Homo sapiens: one gene and its partners. The protein of the gene in region 1 interacts with the protein of each later gene in a biochemical or structural test. Each region holds a gene or a part of one and is shown on either strand. Other genes may lie near its edges.

The links. The genes of interacting proteins can lie anywhere in the genome.
Region 2: of the proteins of TMPO (region 1) and RNF123, one has a biochemical effect on the other in vitro, tested with the Homo sapiens proteins (one study listed by BioGRID).
Region 3: the proteins of TMPO (region 1) and AKAP8L form a complex in vitro, tested with the Homo sapiens proteins (one study listed by BioGRID).

Annotation. Positions count from the first base shown.
Region 1 is NC_000012.12:98,525,379-98,533,001, forward strand, and holds part of TMPO (thymopoietin), read left to right. Parts: intron 1-2,507; coding exon 2,508-2,634; intron 2,635-6,301; coding exon 6,302-6,460; intron 6,461-7,444; coding exon of another isoform or gene 7,445-7,623. UniProt on the Homo sapiens protein: May help direct the assembly of the nuclear lamina and thereby help maintain the structural organization of the nuclear envelope. Possible receptor for attachment of lamin filaments to the inner nuclear membrane.
Region 2 is NC_000003.12:49,706,120-49,713,742, forward strand, and holds part of RNF123 (E3 ubiquitin-protein ligase RNF123), read left to right. Parts: intron 1-671; coding exon 672-779; intron 780-6,359; coding exon 6,360-6,537; exon of another isoform or gene 6,538-6,773; intron 6,774-7,393; coding exon 7,394-7,468; intron 7,469-7,618; coding exon 7,619-7,623. UniProt on the Homo sapiens protein: Catalytic subunit of the KPC complex that acts as E3 ubiquitin-protein ligase. Promotes the ubiquitination and proteasome-mediated degradation of CDKN1B which is the cyclin-dependent kinase inhibitor at the G0-G1 transition of the cell cycle.
Region 3 is NC_000019.10:15,408,803-15,416,425, reverse strand, and holds part of AKAP8L (A-kinase anchor protein 8-like), read left to right. Parts: intron 1-5,831; coding exon 5,832-5,906; intron 5,907-7,623. UniProt on the Homo sapiens protein: Could play a role in constitutive transport element (CTE)-mediated gene expression by association with DHX9. Increases CTE-dependent nuclear unspliced mRNA export.

The DNA of each region.
Region 1 (7,623 bases):
GCTTCTGATTATAGAATGATTAGCCATTAGCAGCTTTTTAAAAAGAATTTCTCATATCTTGCTTTATTTGAAGTATTTCAGGCCAGGTTCCATGGCTCACGCCCGTAATCCTAGGACTTTGGGAGGCTCAGGCGGGCATAACATTTGGGGTCAGGAGTTCAAGACCAGCCTGGCCAACATGCTGAAACCCCGTCTCTACTAAAAATACAAAAATTAGCCGGGCGTGGTGGTGCACACCTGTAATCCCAGCTACTCAGGAGGCTGAGGCAGGAGAATCACTTGGACCTTGGATGCAGAGGTTGCAGTGAGCCAAGATTGCGCCACTGCACTCCAGCCTGGATAAGAGTGAGGCACAGTCTCAAAAAAAAAAAAAAAAAAGATTTGATTTGAGCCTGACAATTCTAGGTCAGAACATTTTTATTGTTAAAAACAGTAATTCCAGTACATAGTCAAATCATGACTGATTTTTCCCCCTAATATTATTGGAAAGTGAGCATTCCATACAACTTGATAATTTTAGCCTTTTTCGTAAAATTTACTTTGATGTTGCCATTGTTTAATTAGCCATTTTTTTGTTCAGTACTCTGATGTTTTTTCTGTGATCACTGAGGCATTTGTCAGGCTGTTTGCCACAGCCTTAAAAGGTATCCGTACTTTTGCTTCCTTTTTATTTGTTCAACCTTGGAAATTTATAGTTTTTCCAGTAAATACTGCCTTTGTAGAAATTAATTTTAAAACTTTCAAATTTTCCCTCAAAGTTTGTTTCAAGTTATTTTGACTATTTTTAGTAAACTGGTGGTACAGAAGTTAATCTGGTGACTAAACTGTGTCACAGGTGATAATTTAACCATGAAGTCTGTCAGATTTCCTTCCTAAGTCATAAACTAGCTACTAAAATAACTGTGTTACAAGGAGTTTACAGTCCTGTCTCCTATCCTTGGGGTGGAGATTGGTTCCAGGACCCGGCCATGGATATCAAACTCTGGGGATGCTTTAGTAAGTCCCTTAATATAAAGTGGTGTAGTAACCTACACACATCCTCCCTTATACTTCAGATCATCTCTAGATTACTTATAACGCCTAATACAATGTAAGTGCTATGTAAATAGTTGTTATACTGTATTTTTGTTAGTGTTTTTATTGTCGTATTGTCTTTTTTTTCCCCAAGTATTTTTGATCTGTGGTTGGTTGAATTCACATATGTAGAACCCAACTGTATTCATTTGGGAGAATGGAGAGCCAACTGTATTCATTTGGCCTTCTTAAGTTCTCATATGCTGTTTAAAGAAAATCATTTCTGGCCGGGCGCAGTGGCTCATGCCTGTAATCCCAGCACTTTGGGAGGCTGAGGTGGGCAGATAACGAGGTCAAGAGATCGAGACCATTCTGGCCAACATGTTGAAACCCCGTCTCTACTAAAAGTACAAAAATTAGCTGGGCGTGGTGGCGCACACCTGTACTCTCAGCTACTCGGGAGGCTGAGGCAGGAGAATCGCTTGAACCCGGGAGTCGGAGGTTGCAGTGAGCCAAGATTGCACCGCTGCGCTCCAGCCTGGCAACAGAGCGAGACTCCACCTCCAAAAAAAAAAGAAAAAGAAAAGAAAATCATTTCTATATATGTATCTAAGTGTAAGCCTGTATGGTAAAGTCTTAAACTTTCCTGGATTAATTTAAATTTTTAAGGATTATCAAAAAGTTAGTAAGTAGCATTCATGATCATTTAGATGAAAAATGTTAAGCCCAGTCTGGCTTTACTTTCCATGGTTCATGCTGATCTGTTTCCGTTGCCATTGGAGTTATATGCTTTAAGAAATGAAATATAATTTTTGGTTATTTAGGCTGTGTGCAGTGGTTTACAACTGTAATCCTAACACTTTGGGAGGCCAAGGTGGGCTGATCACTTGAGTCCAGGAGTTTGAGACCAGCCTGGGCAACATGGCAAAAACCCCATCTCTACAAAAAAAAAAAAAAACAAAAAAAAAAAACCACAGGCAAAAAGCCAAGGGTGGTGGTGCGCACCTGTAGTCCCAGCTATTTGGGAGACTGAGGTGGGAGGATCGCTTCAGCCTGGGAGGTGGGGGTTGCAGTGAACTGAGATGGAGCCACTGTACTCCAGCCCGGGTGACATAGCTAGACCCTGTATCATTAAAAAAAAAAAAAAAAAGGTTATTTAAAAGAAAATGTTACCCAAAGTCAGTTTTACTTTTAGTTGCTCTTTTGCATTTTTGATGCCATTACTATCTCTTTTAGATAGGTAATCCAAAATGGACTATTTTAACAACAATGTCTTTAAGTTACTTGCTTGGCTGTGCGGTTTGTATGATTACAGTTCAACTTAGAAAGTGTTCTCCAATAATGAGTTGCTCTTAATTTAATGGAATTGCTAAGGCCTAATATTACTATAAACCAATTTGGTAGTGAGTTTGCATGTTTATGTTATACAGGTTATTATCTAGTAAGTGAACACTTTAATTCATATGGAAATGATTACTGGACTTTGTTTACAGAAAGCCACAAAAAAAACTGATAAACCCAGACAAGAAGATAAAGATGATCTAGATGTAACAGAGCTCACTAATGAAGATCTTTTGGATCAGCTTGTGAAATACGGAGTGAATCCTGGTCCTATTGTGGGTAAGTTGATAAAATTTCAAATACAGTATCTTTTCTCTGAAGCAGGACCCCAAATTATTTTCTCCTTTTTGTTTAGCAGTTTAGGTTCCAAGGACTGGTTTGTCATTAATCATTTGTTATCAGCAGAACCTGTGTTTCTTTGACTGTAAATGAGTGAAATAAAATGAGAGGATTGAATTAGATAATCTCCAAAATTACCTCTATTGTTGAGATTGTTTTATATGGTGCTTATATCGTACTTTTTTTTTTTTTTTTTGGTTTTGTTTTGTTTTTTGTTTTTTTGAGACGGAGTCTTGCTCTGTCGCCCAGGCTGTAGTGCAGTGACGCGATCTCGGCTCCCTGCAAGCTCTGCCTCCCGGGTTCATGCCATTCTCCTGCCTCAGCCTCCTGAGTAGCTGGGACTACAGGCGCCCGCTGCCACGCCTGGCTAATTTTTTGTATTTTTCAGTAGAGATGGGATTTCACCGTGTTAGCAAGGATGGTCTCGATCTTCTGACCTTGTGATCCGCCTGCCTCGGCCTCCCAAAGTGCTGGGATTACAGGTGTGAGCCACCGTGCCTGGCCACTTATATCGTACTTCTGCTGAGACGTGGGTCTTGTATGACAATTGAGGAAAATCTGAGGTAACATAGCTGGGCAAATTTGCCCAAATAAATGAGTTAATGGCCGGGCGCAGTAGCTCACACCTGTAATCCCAACACTTTGGGAGGCCAAGATGGGAGGATTGCTTGTGCCCAGGAGTTGAAGAACAGCATGAGCAACATAGGGAGATCCCATCTCTGCAGAAAATTTTAAAATTAGCAGGGTGTGGTGTCACAAATCTATTGTCCCAGCTACTTAGGAGGCTGAGGCAGGAGGATTGCTTGAGATGGTGGGGGGAAGTCAAAGTTGCAGTGAGCCGTGATGGCTACTGTACTTCAGCCAGGGGCAGTGGAGCAAGACCCTGTCTCAAAAAAAATAAATAAATAAGGGAAAAAGAAAAAGTGAGTTAGTGACAGACTTCTTCTTAATGAAGTTATTAAATTCCTAGCCTAGTACCCTATTTTTTTTTTTTTTTTGAGACGGGGTTTCGCTCTTGTTGCCCAGGCTAGAGTACAATGGTGTGATCTTGGCTCACTGCAACCTCTGCCTCCCAGGTTCAAGCAGTTCTCCAGCCTCAGCTTCCCGAATAGCTGGGATTACAGGCACCTGCCACCATGCCCGGCTAATTTTTATATTTTTAGTAGAGATGGGGTTTTGCCATGTTGGCCAGGCTGGTCTGAAACTCCCGACCTCAGGTGATCCCACCCACCTCAGGCTCCCAAAGTGCTGGGATTACAGGTGTGAGCCACCGCGCTGAGCCCCTTTTTCATTTATCATTAAAAGTACCCTTTTGAAAGTCCTATCTTGATTGGAATTGAGGAATTATACCCTTAAAAAACAAAAACCTAGGACTAAATACACTGGATTTCCATCGTTGGATTACTTTTAGGTGATGAAGATTTTGCAGTGTTGATTATGCCTTAGTTTTGGAGGGTCTTAGCAATAACCTCAAGATGAGAAAATTCCATTTTATTATTATTTTTTTTTTTGACAAGGTCTTTGCTCTGTTGTCCACGCTGGAGTGCAGTGGCACAGTCATGGCTTACTGCAGCCTCAGCTTAGGCTCAAGCAGTCCCACCTCAGCCTCTCAAGTAGCTGGGAACACAGGCACGTGCCACCATTCCCGGCTAATTTTTGTAGTTTTTGTAGGGATGGGGGCACACTATATTGCCCAGGGTGGTCTTGAACTCCTGGGCTCAAGCAGTCCTCCCACTTAGGCCTCCCTAAGTCCTAGGATTACAGGCATGAGTCACTGCATCTGGTCTTGATCTTCTAAGTTACCTAAAATTGTGGACGCTAGAGATTTGGTAGGTTTTGCTATAGGTATAGTTGCAAATAAAGATTTAGAATATTTTGTTTTAATGTATAAGCTGCTTCCAAATAATCATAAGCTTATTCATATACAAGTACCAACAGATATATAACACTTTTAAAAAATGTTTTTGTTTAAAGTTCTAAAAGGCCTGGGCATGGTAGTTCATGCCTGTAATCCCAACACTTTGGGAGGCCAAGGTGGTGGAATTGCTTGAGTTCAGGAGTTGAAGAGCAGCCTGGACAACATAGTGAAACCTTGTCTCTATTTAAAAAAAAAAAAGTAGCCAGGCATGTAGTGCACACTTGTAGTCCTAGCTACTCAGGAGGCAAAGGTGGGAGGATTGCTTAAGCCCACAAGTTCAGGGTTGCAGTGAGCTATGATCGCACCACTGCAGTGCAGCCTGGGCAACAGAGCAAGACCTTGTCTCAAAAAAAAAAAAAGAAATTCCAAAAGGGAGACACTGAAAAATGTGTGTTATAATATCAGCCTACATTAAATTATATGTTGATGTATGACCTGTTCATCTTAAGGCTATTTATATAACATTTCTGGACACATGTTGCTTCTAAAAAATATCCATTATCATTTTGCTCATCTTACCAGGAGTTAAGGAAAGATAATACAGTTAATGTAAAACAAAATCTATTTTGGTTTTAAACTGTCACTGATGTTCAAATGTATTAAGAATTTGTAATCAATTTTGCTTTGTGATATGTGTTTTCCATAAAAGGTCATTTTAACTGCAAAGTTGTTATATTTAAATCTGATTTATAGAACTTTTCTTTTCCCCATAACTGAATACAGGCATATTAATGTCTTAGAGTTGTGGAAATTTAATCATAGTTATTTTTCATAGAGGTACAATCCGCTTACATGTGATTTTTCTACCTTGGCAAGTACTATTACGTAGTAGTAGAGAAAATAAATGCAAGACTTCAGTCAAAAATAGTCATACATGGCTTTTCAGTAGATGGTCTATAGAAAGGCCTGTATTAACCTACTATGTATTTCATGCTATTAAAAGAAATGTCATTTCCCAAAAAACCACCTGTTGTAAAAAGAGTGCATTATATAGTTGTGTGGAATGCAATGGTGCGATATCAGCTCACCGCAACCTCCATCTCCTGGGTTCAGTTCTCCTGCCTCAGCTTCCTGAGTGGCTGGGATTACAGGCGCCCACCACCAGGCCCAGCTAATTTTTTGTATTTGTGGTAGAGACTGGGTTTCACCATGTTGGTCAGGCTTGTCTTGAACTGCTGACCTTAGGTGATCCACCCGCCTTGGCCTCTGGAGGTGCTGGGATTACAGGCATCAGCCACCACGTCCTTTTTTTTTTTTTTTTTTTTTTTAAGACAGCATCTTACTTCCTCTCCCAGCTGGACAGTGGTGCGATCTCAGCTCACTGCAACCTCTGCCTTCCAATTTCAAGTGATTCTCCTGTCTCAGCCTCCCAAGTAGCTGGGATCACAGGCGTGTGCCACCATGCCCGGCTAATTTTTGTATTTTTAGTAGAGATAGTTTCCCTGTGTTGGCCAGGCTGGTCTCGAACTCCTGACCTCAAGTAATGTACCCGCCTCAGCCTCCCAAAGTGGTGGGTTTACAGTCGTGAGCCACTATGTCTGGCCGCATTATATGGTATTTTTTTTTTTAAGAACTTGAGTTTAGAAAAATAAAGGGTGAAAATAGCTTAAAATGTTGCTGAAGATAGTGTCTGAGCTGCATCCTAAATGAAACAATACAGGTACTAAAGCAAGTTCTGCCTTAATCCAGGAACAACCAGGAAGCTATATGAGAAAAAGCTTTTGAAACTGAGGGAACAAGGAACAGAATCAAGATCTTCTACTCCTCTGCCAACAATTTCTTCTTCAGCAGAAAATACAAGGCAGAATGGAAGTAATGATTCTGACAGATACAGTGACAATGAAGAAGGTAAAATTTTAAATGATGTTAATCAAATGTATGGAATTTTTTCACACTCAAAATTCAGTGACCATGAAGAAAGTAAAATTTAAAACAATATTGGCAAGATACACAAATTTTATTCGTGTCATTAGAGTAATTCTGTAATTTGATTTAAATACTTTTTATTGAAAATTCTAAGAAGCAACATAGTACAAATTCATAATTTTCCATCACCTGAAATTGCAAGTTAACTTTGTCTTTTTTGCTACAAATCTCATTTTTCTGAGAGAATAAAGTATTACAAGTAAAGGCAAAGTTTCTCGTACTTACCTGTACCTATCACCTCCACAGAAGTAACTACTATTATTAATTCAATGCCTGTCTTTCAAGTTTTATATTTCACATACACATCTGTCTAATACATGGTATTATTTTATACTTTAAGAATAAAAAATTTATATAAACAGTATGCTAAATCTTATCACTTGCTTTTTCTTACTCCATTATTTTTGAAATCTAATCCTGTTAATTACATATCTGTTTATTCTTCATAATTAATACATAGTGGTAGCATTTAAATATGGCATATTTTCTCTGTTCTCTATTGATAGGCATTTAAATTGTTCGCAGTTTTTGTTAATCTGACCTCAGGGCAACTTTAAAGCAAATATTTTGACTATATTTTTAGTAGACTGTATAGTATCTTAAAATTTGATCATGATGTTTAAATATTTTTTAAGGATAGTATGTGAAATAAATGTCCTTTAAAAATTATAAATACAACTTGATTTTTGTAAACTTTTAATTAATATGACTTGTGATTATTTATTTTGATCCAGATTGTTTATATCTCAATAAGCTTTGTCTACCAGGGCAAATCTGGCAGATTAGTTCAGAATATGAAATTATAGTCTTTTCCTTTGACAGCACTATTTTTAGCAAAGAGGCAAAGAATAAAATCAGCTCAAACACAGGTAATGCTTAAACTTCCTGCCTCTTTTGCCTCTACAGGAAAGAAGAAAGAACACAAGAAAGTGAAGTCCACTAGGGATATTGTTCCTTTTTCTGAACTTGGAACTACTCCCTCTGGTGGTGGATTTTTTCAGGGTATTTCTTTTCCTGAAATCTCCACCCGTCCTCCTTTGGGCAGTACCGAACTACAGGCAGCTAAGAAAGTACATACTTCTAAG
Region 2 (7,623 bases), on another chromosome or scaffold:
ACAGATGAAGTCTGGTTCTGGGGGCTGCCCTGGCAGTTCTCATCCCCACTCTAGCCCTGGCCATAGCACGCCAGTGAGAGTGGGGCTGGCAGCAAGGCCTGGCACCCATCACCAGTGTGGCCTGTGCCTAGGTGCCCCCCACCCCCTGGGCCCAATAAGTGCTGAAGCACACCCACTCTCCTCATCAATTATTCATTGACCCTGAGTGCTTCCTCGGCCACTTGCAGAGTCAGCAGGAAGCAGGGCCTGGCTCCACTGCACCCTCCGGAGCCCTCTGCTGTAGCTGCCCTAGCCCAGGAAGGTGGGGCCCAGTGTGTCCAGGCTGAGCTTCCCTGACAGCCCCCACCCACCCCGACCTGTCAGCAGATCCCTGGGTCTGGCAGCTGGGGGAGCAGCGGTTCTGGCATCAGGTCCCTGGGTGCTCTGGCCAGCGGCTCACAGACCCCCAGCTGGGCCTCACTTCCATGTCATGAGGGGACCACCATGGCCTTGTTCTGAGGCTGGCTCAGGGTCACCAGAGGGTCAGTGGCAGAAGAAGGTTTTGAAAAATGGAGCCCAATCCCTTGCCTGCTCCAGGCACTAGAGGGCCCTTCCTAGGCTGCCTGCAGGATCAGGGTGGACCTGGGTATGGGGCCATGTCTTGATTGTCCTCCTTTCCCCTTGGGTGGCAGAGGAAGGACATCCTTGCAGAGTTGACCAAGAGCCAGAAGGTTTTCTCAGAAAAGCTGGACCACCTGAGCCGCCGTCTTGCCTGGGTCCATGCCACTGTCTACTCCCAGGTGTGCTGGTATTGCAGCTGCCCCTTCCCGACCTCACTGTCTGGCCACGGGTCTAGCAAGATTGTGCCAGGGCCCTTGATGCCCCCACCCTCTCAGGCCTCTGGCACACACATGTCCCTTCCCACACTTCAGACTCCATCACCCCATGCCATGTCCCCTGTACCCCTCATGCTCTGTGGACTGAGGAAGCGCAGTTTCTGGACCTCCAGTTCGCCTCATAGACCTGTCCTTCGAGGAACAAACTCTGTCTGTCTGCCTCCCCTGCTCCCACCCCCTCCCAGTTTCTTGGCCCCCGTCCTTCTCTCCCAGTGCATCAGGGGCTCTGCAGTCTTTCCCGGAGGCACACTCCACCATCTGTGCCTGCCTCTGTCTGACTCATTACCACCCGAGGCCACTGGCTTGTTCCCCACTCACTCATTCACTTGCTCATTCATTCAATAACATGCACTCAAAACCTGGTGTGTGCCAGGTGCTGTCCTGGAACTAGGGACACACACACATTAATAAGTCAGAAAGATGAGCCTCTGCCTTCTGAAGGCACTCAGCCTGGTCAGATACATGGATGGACAGACAGATGGATGGGGCACTCCTGCTGTGACTGAAGTTTCACCCCCAGGCCTCAGACTCTCTGGACTTGTTTCCTCTCCCTGCCCCTCTTGGCATCTCTTCCCTAACCAGTGAGTGCCCTGAGGGTCTCTTCAGGTGCCCAGGTCAGGGTATCTGCTGTCTTCTTGGGCATACCCCTGCATGACTGGGTGATCGAGGCCTTTGGTATCCCCATTTCTATCATCTCTGCTTGCTGTTTCTTCTCATGGCTCTTTTGCAAAACCCAAACCACCTCCACCTTTTTCCCATTCGTGACTCTCCTGCTACCCTGGATGACCGTGCTTACTGCCCCATGACGGGAACTTCCTCTCCCTTCTGCCCTGAGATTTCCTGCCTGCCCACCTCCCTCAGAAGTTTGGCTGCCCTCTCCCACACTGTCTTCTCAAGACCCTTGCCCTCTCATCTCTCTGCCTTTTTTTAGTTATGCTAAAATATGTGTGACATAAAATGTACCATCCTAGCTGTGTTTTTTTTGTTTTGTTTTGTTTTGTGTTTTTTTTGAGACAGAGTCTCACTCTGTTGCCCAGGCTGGACTGCAATGGCATGATCTTGGCTCACTGCAACCTCTGTCTCCCGGGTTCAAGCAGTTCTCCTGGATTATAGATGTGCTACCGCGCCCAGCTACTTTTTGTATTTTTTGGTAGAGACAGGGTTTCACTTTGTTGGCGTGGCTGGTCTCAAACTCCTGGCCTCATGTGATCCTGCCACCTCGGCCTCCCAAAGTGCTGGGGTTACAGGCGTGCGCCACTGTGCCCGGTCACCCATCATAGCCATTTTTAAGTGTTAAGTCTATTCACATTGTCGTGCAGCCAATCTCCACACTCATTTCATCTTGCAAAACTGATACTCCGTGCCTGTTGAACAAAACCTCCTGTCCTCCCTTCCCCAGCTTCCCTGACAGCTCCCACCCATCCCCACCTGTCAGCAGATCCCTGGGTCTGGCAGCTGGGGGAGCAGTGGTTCTGGCATCAGGTCCCTGAGTGCTCTGGCCAGCGGCTCACAGACCCCCAGCTGGGCCTTACTTCCATGTCATGAGGGGACCACCATGGCCCTGTTCTGAGGCTAGCTCAGGTTGCCCCTGGCAACCACCATCCTACTTTCTGTCTCTGAATTTGACTATACTAAGCACCTCATCTAGGAAGAATCATACACTATTTGTTCTTTTGTGTATGGCTTTAGCATAATGTCCTCAAGGTTCATTCGTGTTATAGCATGTGTCAGAATTTCTTCATTTTCCAGGCTGAATAATATTCTGTTGTACGGACACCACATTTCATATATCCAGTCCTTTGCTGATGGACACTCGGGTTGCTTCTACTTTGGGCTACTGTGAATAATGCTGTAATGAACATGGGTTTGCAAAGATCTCTTTGAGACCCTAATTTCAATTCTTTTGGTTATATACCCAGAAGTGGAATTACTGTATCATATGGTAATTCTGTTTTTTATTTTATTTTTAATTTTAATTTTTTATTTTTTTTGAGATGGAGTCTCACTCTGTCACCCAGGCTGGAGTGCAATGGTGCGATCTCGGCTCACATCCTGGGTTCAAGTGTTCTCCTGCCTCAGCCTCCCGAGTAGCTGGGACTACAGGTGCGCACCACCATGCTCGGCTAATTTTTGTGATTTTTTTTTTCTTTTTTTGAGGTGGAGTTTTGCTCTTCTTGCCCAGGCTGGAGTGCAATGGCGCGATCTCGGCTCACGGCAGCCTCTGCCTCCCAGGTTCAAGCAATTCTCCTGCCTCAGCCTCCTGAGTAGCTGGGATTACAGGCATGTGCCACCACGCCCAGCTAATTTTGTATTTTTTTTTTTTTGAGACAGAGTCTCACTCTTTCACCCAGGCCGGAGTGCAATGGCGCTATCTCAGCTCACTGCAAGCTCCGCCTCCCGGGTTCACACCATTCTCCTGCCTCAGCCTCCCGAGTAGCTGGGACTACAGGCGCCTGCCACCACGCCCGGCTAATTTTTTGTATTTTTAGTAGAGACAGGGTTTCACCGTGTTAGCCAGGATGGTCTCGATCTCCTGACCTCGTGATCCACCCGCCTCGGCCTCCCAAAGTGCTGGGATTACAGGCGTGAGCCACCGCGCCTGGCCTAATTTTGTATTTTTTTTTAGTAGAGATGGGGTTTCTTCATATTGATCAGGCTGGTCTTGAACTCCCGACCTCAGGTGATTCGCCCGCCTCGGCCTCCCAAAGTGCTGGGGTTACAGGCGTGAGCCATCGCGCCCTGCAATTTTTGTATTTTTTGTACAGATGGGGTTTCACCGTGTTGGTCAGGCTGGTCTTGAACTGCTGACCTCAGGTGATCCGCCTGCCTCGGCTTCCCAAAGTGCTGGGATTGCAGGCATGAGCCACCGCGCCCGGCCAATTCTGTTGTTTAATTTTTTGGAAACTACCATATCATTTCTACAGTGGCTGTGCCTGTTACATTCTCACCAGTAGTGCATGAGGGTTCCAATTTCTCCATACATATCCTTACCGACACTTCTTATTTTCTGCCCTTTTTTTTTCTTGGTAGACGCAGGGTCTCACTATGTTGCCCAGTTGTCAAACTCCTGGGTTCAAGGAATCCTCCTGCCTCGGCCTCCCAAAGTGCGGGGATTATAGGCATGAGCCACCACACCCGGCAATTTCTACTTTTTTAATAGTAAATCCTAATGGGTAGGATATGGTACCTTATTGTGGTTCTGCATTTTGCTAATGATTAGTGACATTATGACAAATAGTACCTTTACAAGCACTTATTGGCCATTTGCATATCTTTTGTTTGTTGGTTTGTTTGTTTTGTTTTGAGAGGGAGTCTCGCTCTGTGGCACAGGCTGGAGTGCAGTGGCAAGATTTTGGCTCACTGCAACCTCTGCCTCCCAGGTTCAAGCGATTCTTCCACCTCGGCCTCCTGAGTAGCTGGGACTATAGGCATACGCCACCACGCCCGGCTAATTTTTGTATTTTTAGTAGAGATGGGGTTTCACCTTGTTGGTCAGGCTGGTCTCAAACTCCTGACCTTAGGTGATCCGCCTGCCTCGGCCTCCCAAAGTGCTGGGATTACAGGCTTCAGCAACCGCGCCTGGCCATATCCTATAATTTTGCTGAATTTATTTATTAATCCTAGTTGGGGTTTTGTGTGTGTGTGTGTATCTTTAGGATTTTCTACTTATAAAATCATGTCTGTGAACAGAGATAATTTTACTTTATCCTTTCCAGTGTGGTTTCCTTTCTTTTTCATGCTTAGTTGCTCTGGCTGGGATTTCCAGGACTGTGCTGAGCAGAAGTAGAGAAAGTGGCACACTTGTCTTGTTCTTGGTCTGAGGGAGGGAGGGATTATAGTCTGTTACCACTGAGTGTGATGTTAGATGGAGGCTTTTCATATATGGTCTTTATTATGTTGAACTGCCTTCATTCTCTGCATCTTCAGCACTAACTCACCTGTGTCTTTCTAATCCCATTATTAATGGAGAGATTCACTCCTGTAAACCAGCACTTTGGGAGGCTGAAGCGGGAGGATCACTTGAAGCCAAGAGTTCATGACCAGCCTGGGCAACCCATCTCTACAAAAAAAACAAAATTTAATTAGCGGGGCATGGTGACACATACCTGTAGTCCCAGCTACTCTGAGGTCAGGAGTTCAAGACCAGCCTGGCCAACATGGCGAAACCCCATCTCTCCTAAAAATACAAAAATTAGCAGGGCGTGGTATCACATACCTGTAGGAGGATCACATGAGCCCAGGAGTTCCAGGTTACAGTGAGCTGTGATTGTGCCACTGCATTCCAGCCTTGACGCTATATGTGCCCAAAAGTTATGCTCTCTCCTTCTTTCTCTGTCTTAGCTGCTACATCTTCCCCTTCATCTCCCTCCAGCACAGGCTCTTCCCCATCTCTGAAATAGTCTCACCAGGGTCTCTGTCTGCCCCCATCTCAATCCGGCCGGCACATTTCCATCTCCTTTGCATTGATACCTTAGCTCTGATGGGGCCATTGCCAGCCCCTCACCAGACACAGTCTTCGCTGGCCTTCTGTAGCAGCAGGATCATCGCTGCCTAGGTTTGCGCCTAGGCCCTCCCCTAACCTCTTGCTTACATCTTCTCCTCAGTTCCTTGGGCTTTAGGGCACATCAGAGAGCTGGTGTGAAGCCCAGGTGCTGTGACCGCACTCCAAGACACACGGGTGCTGTGGGTCTGGGCTGGGGCCTGAGGCCTCATTCTTGCCTGGGCTCCTTTGTGAGACCCTGACATAGACTTTGTGGAAACCACATTGTGGGGAGCAGGGCCCTCAGCAGGTTTTGTCTGTTTCCTGTGACCTCTGTTCCACCAGTCACACTGCCCCCTGCTTTCCCACCACCTTCTCCTTTGCACTCCAGATCAAATTTCTGCCTGTCTGCTTACCATCGCCAGCTCTCTTGGGCCCTTCACACACCTTGTACTCCACTTTTCCACACAGACTTCCAGTCACAGCACCCTCTTGCCTAAAACTTGCTTACAGGCTGAGGCAGGCAGATCACCTGAGGTCAGGAGTTCAAGACCAGCCTGGCCAACATGGCGAAACCCCATCTCTACTAAAAATACAAAAATTAGCCGAGCGCGGTATCACATACCTGTAGTCCCAGCTACTCGGGAGGCTGAGGCAAGACAATCCCTTGAACTTGGGAGGCGGAGGTTTCCAGTGAGCCAAGAGGGCGTCACTGCACTCCAGCCTGGGTGACTCCATCTCAAAAAAAAAAAAAACTTGCTTACAAATATGCTGACCAGAGTTCTGGCCTGGGTCACAGTAATGCGCCCTCCAGGCTGAGTGCGTCCCTCTTGCCTGCTGAGGACTTGATTGCCCTGCTTGAGCTACTGCTCATGCTTCCTGAAATCCAGGTCTCAGTTGTGCTGTCGTAGGCCTGGGGAGGCCTTTCCTGATCCCCAGGCCAGGACATGCCCCCAAGACCCCACTGGTGCGCAACCCAGCAGCACCCCGTGTGCCTCCTGCAGGAGAAGATGCTGGACATCTACTGGCTGCTGCGCGTCTGCCTGCGGACCATTGAGCACGGTGATCGCACAGGGTCTCTCTTTGCCTTCATGCCCGAGTTCTACCTGAGCGTGGCCATCAACAGCTACAGTGCTCTCAAGAATTACTTTGGTCCCGTGCACAGCATGGAGGAGCTCCCAGGTGATGGAACCATTCAGGCTGAGGCAGAAGCAGAAAAGGGGTCTCTAGTGTGAGCCCTAGGAGCCCTGGTCTGAGACCTCTGTGGCCCAGCAACACACTTCTGTGGGGGGCGGGGAGGGGAGGAGCTTCCTCTGTGGTTCACCCTGCAGCAAACAAACGTCTGCACCCTGCCCTGGGACCTGCAGCCACAGAGCCAACAGCTCCCTAGCAAAGGAAAACAGACAAGATGGAACACGGTGGGTGTAGACCTCTTGGCTTTCACTTCCTTCCTAGTGCTATGAGCAACTGCCATGGTCCAGGAGCCAGCTGGCCTTGCACCTTGACTCCCTGGCACTGGTCACAAAGCGTAGCAGTTGGTCAGGGGCAGAATGGTTTGTCTTGGTAAATCACAGCAGGGGGTGGACCCTGCTAGGGTCCACATCCGAACCTGGGCCTCTCAGCCTGCTGATTCCAGGCTGGGCGTGGCAGTGTATGTCTGGATCAGGCAGTGAGCTGTCAGGCCCCTAGCCTGCCCCCTGCCCAGCCACAGGCCTCAGTGCAGGCTTTGTCTTCAAAGACAGAGCTGTGAGTGCCCAAGGAGCTTTGACTGCTCATCAGGTGTGTGTGCTGAGATGGGTTTGAGCCCAGGTCAGGGCTCCTGCCAGGGCCTGTCATCCCTTCACAGTGAGCCTGTGCCTTAGCCCTTGCACAGCCACCAATGAATGCTTTGCCCGATGTCCCCAGATGCCACCCTGGGTCCAGGCTGGCCTTGGGAGCCAGCTCTAGAGCCTGCTACCCAAGTCCACCCACCCTGCTGACATGCCTGCCTCTGGAGCCCCCACTCCCAGCCGACACGTCTCACTTCCCACCCTTGCAGGCTATGAAGAGACCCTGACCCGCCTGGCTGCCATTCTCGCCAAACACTTTGCCGACGCACGCATTGTGGGCACTGGTGAGGGGCCCCTACAGAGGGTACAGGGGGAGGGGGATGGGATGGCACCTCTGGTCGGCTTTCTTCTATGAAAAATGTGGCCAGGTGGGCATGAAGTATGGGTCCAGGGCTCATGCCAAGCCCCTGCTGAGGCACGGTGTGTCCCCGCAGACATC
Region 3 (7,623 bases), on another chromosome or scaffold:
CACAACATGGTGGCTGGTTTTCTCCAGACTGAATGATCCCAGAAAGAGCAAGGCGAAAATCCCAGAAGTCACACTCAGTCATTTTCATAAATCTTATTGGTTGCACTGGCTAGCTCTATTAGTTGGGAGGGATCTACATAACGTTAAGAGGCAGGAATGGAGACCATCTTTGAGGATGGTTGTCACCCTACTCTTGGCTCAGATAATAAAGATTGAAGGCAACCTAACCTAATTCCAGTTATCTTTTAATTTTTGGTACTCTGTGTTACTCCTTCAAATAAGACTCTTTTTTTTTTTTAGATCAGGCACGGTGGCTCACACTTGTAATCACAACACTTTGGGAGGCCGAGGCAGGAAGATTGCTTGAGGCCAGGAGTTTGAGATGAGCCTGGGCAACATAGCAAGACCCTTTCTCTATAAAAATTAAAAATAAAAAAGTTAGCTCTGCGAGGTTGAGGCTGCAGTGAGCCATGATTGTGCCACTGTGCTCCAGCCTGGATGACAGCGAGACTCTGGGATTTTTTTTTTGTTTTTTTTTTTGAGACGGAGTCTTGCTCTGTCACCCAGGCTGGAGTGCAGTGGCGCCATCTCGGCCCACTGCAAGCTCCGCCTCCCAGGTTCATGCCATTCTCCTGCCTCCGCCTCCCAAGTAGCTGGGACTACAGGTGCCCGCCACCACACCCGGCTAATTTTTTGTATTTTTAGTAGAGACGGGGTTTCACCTTGTTAGCCAGGATGGTCTTGATCTCCTGACCTTGTGATCCGCCCTCCCTGGCCTCCCAAGGTGCTGGGATTACGGGCATGAGCCACTGCGCCCGGCTGACTGGGAGGTTTGCTGGAGCCCAGGAGTTCAACATTGCTGAGCTATGATCATGCCATTGCACTCCAGCCTGGGCAACAGAGCAAGATCCTGTCTCAAGAAAATATATACTCTTTTTTAAAAAGGAGAAAGGAAAAGTATAAAACTGAGAAGCATTTGTTTTGTTTTGTTGAGACAGGGTCTCACTATGTTGCCCAGGTTGGAGTGCAGTGGCACAAAATCATAGCTCACTGCAGCCTCGCCCTCCTGTGCTCAAGTAATCCTCCCACCTCACCTCAGCCTCCCAAGTAGCTGTGACTACATGTGCATGCCACCATGCCTGGCTAATTTTTTATTTCTGAGATGAGGTCTCACTATGTTGCCACGCAGGTCTTGAACTCCTGGGCTCAAGTGATCCTCCCAACTCAGCCTCCCAAAGTACTGGTATTACAGACATGAGCCACAGCATTTGGCCTGCTTTTGTATTTTTGAGCAAAAAAAGTTGACGAGAGATTGGTTAAAAGCAAGGAGTGTTGCTGCAGAACTAGAAATCCATGGTCTCAAAGTGAGAGGATTGCTTAAGCCCAGGAATTCAACACCAGCATGGGTAACATAGTGAGACCCTGTCTCTCAAAACAAAAAAAGAAAAAGAAAACAAAAATTAGCTGGGCCTGGTGGTGCGTGGCTATAGTCCCAGCTATACAGGAGACTGAAGTAGGAGGATCACTTGAGCCCCGGAGGCTGAGGCCACAGTGAGCAGTGATTGTGCCACTGCACTCCAGCCTGGATGACAGTGAGACCCCCTGTCTCTAATAAAAATAGAAAGAAAGAAATCCGTGGGCTAGGCGTGGTGGCTCACGCCTGTAATCCCAGCACTTTGGGAGGCCGAGGTGGGCGGATCACGAGGTCAGGAGATCGAGACCATCCTCGCTAACACAGCGAAACCCCATCTCTGTGAAAAATACAAAAAATTAGCCAGGCGTGGTGGCAGGTGCCTGTAGTCCCAGCTACTCAGGAGGCTGAGGCAGGAGAATGGCGTGACCCCAGGAGGCGGAGCTTGCAGTGAGCCAAGATCGTGCCACTGCACTCCAGCCTGGGCGACAGAGCGAGACTCCGTCTCAAAAACAAACAAACAAAAAAAAAAAGAAATCTGTGATCTAACATTTAGCTTTATAGGGCCATATAGGGCATATTTTATTTTTTTCAACCAGCGCTAATCAGGCTGATAAATTGTACCAAGAGAACACTTTACAAACCAGCTAAGAATTTAGGCCGGGCGTGGTGGCTCACGCCTGTAATCCCAGCACTTTGGGAGACCGAGGCGGGCAGATCTTCTGAGGTCGGGAGTTTGATACCAGCCTGACCAACATGGAGAAAACCCGTCTCTACTAAAAATACAAAATGCGTAGTGGCGCATGCCTGTAATCCCAGCTACTCGGGAGGCTGAGGCAGGAGAATCGCTTGAGCCTGGGAAGTGGAGGTTGCGGTGAACCGAGATCGCACCATTGCACTCCAGCCTGGGCAACAAGAGTGAAACTCCGTCTCAAAAAAAAAAAAAAAAAAAAAAGAATTATTCATAATAGGAGCCAAAACTGGCTACAGAAGGGCCTGCTCTGCGATCTTTGCAGATGGTATTGTGGAACAGAATGTTAATGTGGTGCAGGGTATAGAGTTAGAGCAGAGATTGCCATTGATCTTGGAGGGTTTGATGGATCGTCTTTCCTTCCTAGGGAAGCACCAGGGCCCCTCTCGCCTGAACAGACACAGATATTTTGCTCAGCAGCTTGCTGACTGTATCTTGTGAGGGTGTGGTAGGCTGTCATTTGCAGTTGCAGTACTCACAGATCACATTACCTAAAGTCTGAGGCCATTTTACTGGTGGCCCAATTGCTGAAAGAACAAGTTTCCAGAGGCCAGTTGAGCAAACAGTGGAGACCGCAGGGGCTGGGTATTCCTTACATTATAAGGCTTTCCCCTGGGTGAACTCTTCAAAGCTGCTCTCAGTGTTTCTTATGGACAGCTATTAATCAACAATGCCTGGATTTTAGGCATCTCAGGAAGGTCCAGATCCCTGGAAGGAATCCATTTGAATGGATTTCTAGCCTCTTTACTTAGGGAAGGTAGAAGACTGGATCTGTATACCCTCGGTTTTATCCTGCCTCAAGTCCCAGTCCCTACTCTGGAAAGTGAAGATGAAGCTGGGTTCACAGCTCCGTCTTTGGAACCCTTGGAGCTAGATGTATTTTGGAATTCTAGCTTAAGAGAAGTCACGTGGGGTCTGGGGAAGCACCTTGTATTTAAATAGATTAATTCTGCACTAAGTAGGACAAAGAAAGATTATAAATGTCCTTACAGGTGAAAACAGCTCCAGCGTGAGTTTTGGCACCACACTGGTAGAAAACACTTGGTGTTCAGACCCTTTTGGACCTGGGGGAATTGCAGAGTAAGGAATCTTGCCCACCTGCCCTTATTGTCTGTGGTGAGGATGAAATGAGATCATTGCAGATAAATGTTCTTAGCACCCTGCAGGGAAAGCACTTGTTTGCTGTTGGCTGCTGCTGCTGTGGTCTTAAGAGATAAAATAGAGACACTGTCAACAAATAAGAGAACGCTTACCCAGGGGGAAGGCACTTCTGTAGGTTTTTGATGTAAACAAGCTGTTAAAGGCATAGGCTTTAATTTTCAGGTCATGAGTTGGCTCTGATGGGAAAGGCAAATACTGCCTCTTATGGTATCTGTCGTAATTTCAGTGCTGAGAGAAAATTATTCAAAAATATGTATTTCTGGCCGGGCGCAGTGGCTCACGCCTGTAATCCCAGCACTTTGGGAGGCCAAGGCGGGCGGATCACAAGGTTAGGAGATCGAGACCATCCTGGCTAACATGGTGAAACCCCATCTCTACTAAAAATACAAAAAAATCAGCCGGACATGGTGGCACGCGCCTGTAGTCCCAGCTACTCAGAAGGCTGAGGCAGGAGAATCGCTTGAACCCGGGAGGTGGAGGTTGCAGTGAGCCGAGATCGTGCCACTGCACTCCAACCTAGTGCGAGACTCCGTCTCAAAAAAATATATATGTATTTCTAACTGTAGAGTTGTTGTTTTTTCTTTTTTTAATGTAGTTTTAAAGCAAGTGTCAGGATTAGCATCAGTCATAGTCTGTAGGAGCACTGGTTTCTGATAGAGGTAGAAGTTTTCCTTACTTGGCACTAACTCATTTTATTTTATTTCATTTATTTATTTATTTTGAGATGGAGTCTTGCTCTATTACCCAGGCTTGAGTGCAGTGGCACGATCTCCACTCACTGCAATCTCCGCCTCCTGGGTTTAAGCAGTTCTTCTGCCTCACCCTCCCAAGAACCTGGGATTACAGGCAGGTGCCACCACACCCAGCTAATTTTGGGGTTTTGTTTGTTTGTTTTGAGACGGAGTCTTGCTCTGTCGCCTAGGCTGGAATGCAGTGGCATGATTTTGGCTCACTGCAACCTCTGCCTCCTGGGTTCAAGCGATTCTCCTGCCTCAGCCTCCTGCGCAGCTGGGACTACAGGCACACACCACCACGCCCAGCTAATTTTTGTATTTTTAGTAGAGACAGGGTTTCACCATATTGGCCAGGCTGATCTCGAACTCCTAACCTCGTGATCCACCTGCCTCGGCCGCCCAAAGTGCTGGGATTACAGGCGTGAGCCACTGTGCCCTGTAATTTTTGTATTTTTAGTAGCTAATTTTTGTATTTTTAGTAGAGATGGGGTTTCACCATGTTGGCCAGGCTGGTCTTGAACTCCTGGCCTCAACCAGTCCACCCCCCCTTGGCCTCCCAAAGTACTGTGAGTACAGGCATGAGCCACTGCATCCAGCCCTAATTCATTTTATGTTGAGAAATAGTTTGAAAGTTGAGAAGATAGGAAATTTTATGTATATATAATAATACTTATTTCCATATGACCATGCCACCCCAAATAATTACTTTTAAGAAATAATTGTTTTTTGTTTTTGTTTTTGTTTTGAGACAGGGTCTTGCTCTGTCACCCAGGCTGGAATGCAGTGGCGCAATCATAGCTCACTGCAGCCTTGACCTTCTGGGCTCAAGTGACACTCCCACCTCAGCCTCCCAAGTAGCTAGGACTACAGGCACATGCTGCCACAGCTGGCTTTTTTTTTTTTTTGTAGAGACAGGGTTTCACCCTGTTGCCCAGGCTGGTCATCTTGGCCTCCCAAAGTGTTGGGATTACAGGCATGAGCCACTGCCCGGCCCAGAAATAATTGTTATAATTGTTATACACACTTTTTAATGGGAAAACCAAAATAAAAAGCAGTTTCTGTTTCAGATTTAGAACAGGGAGGGGGGTATTATTTGCTTTAACATGGTTTTGAAGCTAACCTCCATCCTTGTTTGAATTCCAAGTGGCTCACCCTTCAGGGATTTGAATAGTTTCCTCATTTAACAGAATGATAACTTGGGTGTTCATTTCTCAAAATAGGCTACTGGCTTAAATGTTTAAAAATTTTTATTTGGGGCCAGGCTCTGTGGCTCACACCTGTAATCCCAGCACTTTGGGAGGTTCAGGAGGGTGGATTGCTTAAGCCTAGGAATTAAAGACCAGCCAGGGCAACATGATGAAACCCCATCTCTACAAAAAAGTATAAAAATTAGCTGCGAATGATGGCACGAACGTATAGTCTCAGCTACTTGGGAGGCTGAGGCAGGAGGATTGTTTGAGCCTGGAAGGTCGAGGTTGCAGTGAGCCGTGATCATGCCACTGCGTTGCAGCCCGGACAGAGTGAGACCTTGTTTTTAAAAAGTAAATAAATAATTTTTTAATCTAGTCCTCCTGGTATAGCAAGTTAAACATAGCCTGCCTTTCCATTGGGTAATATTTTCTGACGGTCTAATTAAACTGTGGAATCTAGAGGTTTTGGTGGCTTTTCGTTGAGAGAAGGGCCTGCTGGCAATCCTATACCAAAGGTTAGGTAGTCTCAGGTCATTTCCCTGTGACTTGCTTGTGGAAATTAACCCCACTGTCTTTATGTTTAGGCTTTGTCCAGGGATCTGAAACCACTTTGCAGTCGACATACTCGGATACCAGCGCTCAGCCCACCTGTGATTATGGTAAGTGTGGACTTCTGGTGGGAACCAAAGTGTTCTGCAGAGCAGTTCCTTGTCTTCTTAGTTGCCTTTGGCTTTGCTGTCACCCTGTCATGCTTTTTTAAACCTAAACTTGTGTGAAATGGTGTGGCCATTTGAATAGCTAGTGCTTCCCTTTCAGGCAATTATGGGAAAAGTAGCTGTGTTCCTGAGCAAGTTAGGCTCTTTGATAAAAGGCCTGGCTTCAAATCCCCATGGGGGAGGGACTGGGAGTCACAGTGGCCAATTAAAGTCCAAAGGAGGCCAGGCGCGGTGGCTCCTGCCTGTAATCCCAGCACTTTGGGAGGCCGAGGCGGGTGGATCACTTGAGGTCAGGAGATCGAGACCATCCTGGCCAACATGGTGAAATGCCATCTATACTAAAATACAAAAAATTAGCCGGGCATGGTGGTGTGTGCCTGTGGTCGCAGCTACTCAGGAGGCTGAGGCAGGGGAATCACTTGAACCCGGGAGGCAGAGGTTACAGTGAGCCGATATCATGCCACTGCACTCCAGCCTGGCAACAGAGCAAGACTCTGTCTCAAAAAAAAAAAAGTCCAAAGGATTGGTCCAGGAGAAAGCAAGCTATTAACTTAGTCCCAGCATAGTGCATGTCCTTGCTGTGGGAGAGAGGCTGAGTGTGTGAATCTGGCAGCTTTTGGAGACTCAGCCAGGCCACCTCAAGCCAGCAGGCTCCACACACACAGAGTTGAGTGAAGATCTCTGATTGAGTTTTCCAGCGTGGACAGAAACACCTAATTAGCTAATTCAGAAGTAGCCACCAGTAGGATTCACAGATGCTGTTTTGTTTGTGTGCTGTGGCAGCCCGGACTGCTGTTAAAGCTGGTTTTTGGTTGTCTGTGACTCTAGGGGTATCTGTTGAGAAGGAGCCCTCTTTGGAATTAACAGGGATAATGTCTTAGTTACTGAGATGGGTAATTTCTTTTACTACCAAGATCTGGGGAAAGACTGATCCTACACAGCTAACATGCCTTCAGGGGTCACTGCATAAAGAGACTTAAGTAAGCTCCCCAAGTAACAGCAGCTAGTCCCAGGAAAAGGGAAGACTTAAAATATTTTGAAATTGAGTGAGAAGGTATCAGGTGTCTCATAAATGAGGAGAAACTTGGTTTGCTTGACTTCCCTGTGCTGCCCTCCCTGCCTCTCCCTTTTCATCAAATGTAGTCCCTAATTGCACATCCTTTTGAATTATTTTCCCTCTGGATTGCATATTCTGAGTACAAGCCATTTCTCGGATATGCCATTTACAAATATTTTCTCCCAGACTGTGGCTTGTCTATTCTCTTGTCAGTGTGTCTTGTCTTGTGTCAGAAAGAACACAAGTTGTTAATTTTGAAGCCCAATTCAATCTTTTCTTTAATAGATGATGGTTTTGCTTTTATATCTAAGAAATCTGTAATATTTTCTTTAGAATTTTCTTTTAGGTGTTTTAGTTGTGGGTTTTACATTTAGTCTGTGATCCATATTGAGTTAATTTTTCTACAAGGTGTGCAGTATAGGTTAAGGTTTCTTATTCTTCTATGGCATATAAATATATAATTGTTCCAGCACCATTTGTTTAAAAAACAAAAACAAAAACAAAACCATTTTTTCTTTCTTTTTTTTTTTTTTTGAGACAGAGTCTCACTCTGTCCCCCAGGCTGGAGTGCAGTGGCGCGATCTCAGCTCACTGCAAGCTCCG